Linked DNA regions of Homo sapiens: region 1 is linked to region 2. A link means that fine-mapping ties the variant in region 2 to the expression of a gene that starts in the linked region. Tissue or cell type: whole blood. Region 2 holds a variant in brackets; the other region holds the start of a gene. All regions are shown on one strand. Distances are from middle to middle.

Region 1 (2,500 bases), 55 kb before region 2:
CCTGAGCAAGTTACTTAGCTTCTCCAGGCGTCATTTTCCTGTATTCTAAAATGGAGATGATAATAGCATTTACCTTATAGGATTGTTGTGAAGATTAAATGAGTTTAGGGCAATGCTATATATAGGTTAGTATCATCCATCAATTTGCAACATGATTTCATAAGTGCATCTAGAATATGCTTGTGTAAACCTATGGTTAGATGATGAAGCTAAGAAAAGCCTGAGTCCATCCCTGGAGAGTAAGAAACTAGTATACTCCTTTTACACAGTACCTTGCACACAGCACAGGCTTAACAGACATATTTAAATTGAACTGAAGCGAATACTACCAGAACTGAAAGTGGTAGTTCCAGATCTTTCAGGCTCAAGGTCCAGATTTTACAAGTGTTTCTGATCACCCTCCCCCTACCTCATTTATCGCAAAGAGCAGAGGCCAGGAAAAGGATGAATAATCAATGACCTTAAAACTCAGGTGAGAATAAAAACCAGTTCTGAGAAACCGTGTGACATTTACATCCTGGTACCTGAGCTTTAGATCACTCTGCATGTGTATTTCCTCTGCACAAAGCCCAGGAGGCTACTTTTATATTATTGGGGCAAATCTCCCAACAGCCCTGGGTACTAAACAGCCTTCAGCAGGTGCTTCCAAATTTTCTTATTTGCTTCAACTCCCAGGTTGCCAGGGGAAGCTTGGCCGACAAGTCTATACTCCTGGGCAGACTGAGCAACAGCAGGTGGTGGCTTCTGGATAAGAGGTGCTCTAGGTCGGAAGGAAATAAATGAGACTACGATCAGTTAAAGTTCGGTAAAGCAAGAGACGCCTTCAACCCGACGACCAGACGGTGGCTCCGCAGCACAGACTCTCTCGGATGGTGGAATTCCCAACCGGCTTCGATGTAGCCCCGCCCCTACCCAGACCACGCCCACCAATCACCGCCCTCTCCCCCCCAGGCCCCGCCTGGAGCCCGCCCCTCCTAAAGCATGCTCCACCTGACTCCGACACTGCCGGGCTTAGTCCGCCGGGCTTAGTCCGTGGAGCGCTTGCGCATTTCTTGAGTTGTCGTGGCACTGCCCAAATCTGAATGGGGGAAAGAGGGAACTTCATATTTCCTACAGACTCCGCCACAGCGACTTTGCGTGCTCTCTTAGAGCTGGTTTTGCCTTTCGTGGTCCTGAGAACCCTGGCTTTTGGTTCCCCAATGCGGCTTAAGTGTGCAGGTTTTAAGTTAGGCGATCTTCGGGCAGCCCTAGTCCCAGCACCGGGTCCTTGCGCTGAGTCTCGGGACCACAGCCGGGGAGGCGGGGTCCTTCTCTGGGGCGGTCGCGTTGGCAGCGGATGCGGGAAGCCGGACTCTGGGCGTCATGTACTACAAGTTTAGTGGCTTCACGCAGAAGTTGGCAGGAGCATGGGCTTCGGAGGCCTATAGCCCGCAGGTACGAGTGGCGCCTGGCCAGCTCGGACATGAGAAGTGGCGGCCCTAGCCTCGGCGACAGGCAGTCGCGGCGTTGGAGCCAGGGGAGGCTTCTGCCCGCGGTCGAGTTCGTCTCTGTTCTCCTTGCACCTCCCGGGGCCTCTCCACACCAGCGTACGGTGGTCACTGAGGCTTCTTTTTGTGTACCTGCTCACCTGGCGGGGGCTGGCCTGGCGTGGAAGTTTGGTCTGGCTCACTGCAGGGGTCAAGGTGACCCCCGGGGTCACTTGTCTAAAAGGGATGGTTTGTGGGGGTCCCCAGTGTGACCCGAGTCAGAGGTCCGGCCTTCTCCCTCAATTCGAAGACATCTGGCTTTCGGCCTCCTTGTCGTTTGTCATCTGCCAGAGCCCCATAGGCAGCCTCACTTGAGCTCGAGATTAGAGAGCGCGGGGCTATAAAGGCGTTTAGAGAAACCATGGTGCAGGGGGTTGGGGGGCTATGATCTGGGTTGGGAAATTTAACAGGTTACTTAACACGTCCAGGGAGGGAAGTTGCATGCAGCGAGGTTACACTTTCCCGATTGTAAAATATTTGACAGATGCTCGTTGTTTGGGTTGTCTGAAAAGTATTCCATTTCACGCAGATTCTACCAATTGGAGTTTGACTCTCCAGCATGTGTTGGGGGTAAACATGAGGGATTTTAGAGCCCCAGACGTGCCTTTTCAAATCATGGCGTTTTCCGCTTTAATTGTGTGACCTTGGCCAAGTTATTTAATTTATTGTGAGCTCAGTTTCATCCAGGGCGGCGTTAGTACACATTAAATGAAGTGTGTCAAGTGACTAGCAGTTTGGGCAGGTGGTTGGTTCTGGATAAGTGTTAACTGTTCACCAGAAGCTGTCTGAGATAGTATATTCCCTCCTAATCCTCTAGAGAAGTGTGGGAAGTGTCGGTGAGATACGCAGTTAGACTGCAGTAGTGAGGGGCCCAGATGAGGTGTAAAGGATACTCCATTACTGTTGCTTCATTTCCTTTTTCTGTGGGACACTGCAGCTTGCCCAAGAGGCAGATGTTTAAGAAAGATTTCAGG
Region 2 (2,845 bases):
CAGCCTGGCCAACATGGCGAAACCCTGTCTCTACTAGAAATACAAAAATTAGCTGGGTATGGTGGTGGGCGCCTGTAATCCCAGCTACTCAGGAGGCTTGAGGCTAAAGAATCGCTTGAGCCTGGGAGGCAGAGGTTACAGTGAACTGGGATCATGCCATTGCACTCCAGCCTGGGCAAAAGAGGGAAACTGTCTCTAAATAAGTAAATAAAATAAAATAAAATAAAAATTTCTTAACCCTAGGTGTGACTTTTTTCAGGCCTAGGGTCAGTGATAGTAATAGAATGGCTACATTAAGATTTTTCCATTTTAGACAATACATTCAGGTATTCATAGATCCAAGGCAAAAATAAAAACAAATGAGAAAGTTCCCCAAGGATCAACAGAACCTAACCAGATCTGAAACCAAAGACAGGAGTTACATACAGAATGAACACTGACAACTACATCTCCCCTAGATTCTAATCAATCCCCAAATGGACTGCCAGCACTTTCAATTTAGTTATCACATCACTCTCATGAAGTGTTTTCTACTTACAACTCCAAGAGAAACCAATTGGCTTACCTTTAGTTTAAGTCACTAAAATTGAGTGACTTTCCATTTTAAGCTTGTCAATGATGACTTCACAGCTATGTAAATGCTGGAAAGTAATTTCAGTGAGTTTTTCAGAACAATTTTCCCTACAAATTGGGGCCGTGTATGTCTATTTGTAAACACACAGTGTTTTCTTCAACCAAAGCAGTTTATCTTCATGATTCAAACCCCGCTAGCCTTACAATCGCCCATTTAGTGTTTAACTCCCTTGTATACATAGTATGCTTTAACAATGTCAATCAGTGATTTAATTGTCAAAGATAAACCTTCCTAACAATATTTCTAATTAATGCTGTAAATATCTCAAAGAGTACTGTTGGATTAGAGGAAAGGACAAGCTTTGGAACCATGCAGAACCTGAGCTCAATCACAGGTAACAGAACTCTATGGGTCTTGGTTTCCTGTCTGTGCAATCACGATATTAATAAACACTATGTTACATTCTTGTGAAGAGTAACATATAAAAAGAATTTAGCGGCCAGGTGCGGTGGCTCACACCTGTAATCCTAGCACTTTGGGAGGCCGAGGCGGGAGGATCACGAGGTCAGATTGAGACCATCCTGGCTAACACGGTGAAACTCTGTCTCTACTAAAAATACAAAAAAAAAAAAAAATTAGCCAGGCGTGGTGGCAGGGCGCCTGTAGTCCCAGCTACTTTGGAGGCTGAGGCAGGAGAATGGCGTGAACCCAGGAGGCGGAACTTGCTGTGAGCCAAGATCATGCCATTGCACTC[C/T]AGCTTGGGTGACAGAGCGAGACTCTATCTCAAAAAAAAAAAAAAAAAAAAAAAAAAGGATTTAGCACAAGGTCATCAGACACTGAATAAATGATATCTCTTACTTTTATTATTTCAAGGACTTTAGCATTTGTGATATCTGTTTAGCTGCCAAAAATAAAGATCTGAAGTGAATTCCTTTGTGGTTTTCTGAAAACTGGATCAGCACTACACCTCAGATGGTTTCCTGTGTGCTTAACCATTTTTTTTGGTTGAAGAAAATAATTTCCTCCAAATCCTACAGTTACCTGTCATGTGTCTTTCTCAAAGAGAATGGACCAAACTCGGTCCAAATGGACAAATGTCCAAGTCTAAGTGCTTTTAAACCTCATCATGATCTATTACTTACGTGTTTTGGGGAAGATCTGAGCTAGCCTTCTATATTTGCAAAGTATCACCAAATGCTCTCTCAAGCAGCCTAATTCTAAAAATTCAATGATTTCACTCAATAGCATCTCTAGTTTCACATTCATAATTCAATTATCTTTAAAGACCTATTTTTCCATTATTCTGAAAGATTCTGCAGCACTATATGTAAGAAGAAATTGGAATGTTTTCACATTTCAGGTGTTAATTTGTATCTAACAGCCAGAAGGAAAAATCGCTATAAAAAAACCCCCTCTAAATGACTAAATTTAGTTAGAATTAAATGAATTAGTTGGTTTAAAGTATTTAAGTCTTATATAGAAACAAAAATATTTACATAAGCATGTTCACAATAGTCTCACCCCATTAAAAATCAGCATTCCACATTTTTTAATGAGTTTAATTTTGGGAAAATTGACTTCATGTTTTTGTCTCCTTAAAAAATGTGAGAAGGACTACTTACTAGCAGAGGCAATAAAGTTGAGTCAATTAAAGATATATAAATCATAAACATGTTAACCTTAGGTACTATACAAGGTCTGCAAGACAGGTCTTAAATTATTTTAGAAAATATATCTTTATTATATATCTGCGTAGCATTTAAAAAAGACAGGATGGCAAAAGGTATAGCACAAACAACTTATAAATGCTCAATGGTGTTACATCAGCTTCAAATCCTTCCCCTGCATAAAAGATGAGGAGAGAAATTTTCTGATTCTTCTCATTTCACAAAGGAAAAGTCAAATCTGCAACTCCTTTTCAATGAAGCCCATAATGACCACTCTATCATTTTGCAACTGCACTCCCTCTTAATCTCCCATCATTTTCCCTATCCTCACATGGTTCTTAACATTTTCTAATATAATTCGTGATAATGTTTATTATTTTTATTTTTTGTAGAGATGGTGTCTCACCCAGGCTGGTCTCAAACTCCTGGCCTCAAGCAATCTTCCTGCCTCAGCCTCCCAAAGCACTGGAATTACTGGCGTGGGCTACTGCAACTCGCCTTATTATTTTTTTTGAGATGGAGTCTTGCTCTGTTGCCCATGCTGGAGCGCAGTGGCACAATCTCGGCTCACTGCAACTGTCTCCCAGGTTCAACTGATTCTCCT

The links. PIP is the estimated chance that this variant, and not a neighbour inherited with it, causes the effect.
Region 1: COX7A2L starts here. The variant in region 2 is fine-mapped to the expression of COX7A2L in whole blood (TOPMed, PIP 0.95).

What each region holds. Positions count from the first base shown.
Region 1 is chr2:42,360,024-42,362,523 of GRCh38, reverse strand. It overlaps COX7A2L (cytochrome c oxidase subunit 7A2 like), which reads left to right and starts at 1,307. Exons shown (of 3, transcript NM_004718.4): 1 at 1,307-1,434. The coding sequence starts at 1,363. RefSeq lists enhancers at 567-656, 1,217-1,276, 646-1,389, 1,297-1,616, 1,390-2,134 and a silencer at 847-1,016.
Region 2 is chr2:42,305,025-42,307,869 of GRCh38, reverse strand. All of the region lies in intron 17 of EML4 (EMAP like 4), which reads right to left. Among named protein-coding and RNA genes, the nearest start is that of COX7A2L, 55 kb to the left of the region's middle. The variant C/T (reference allele first, on the strand shown) is at 1,329.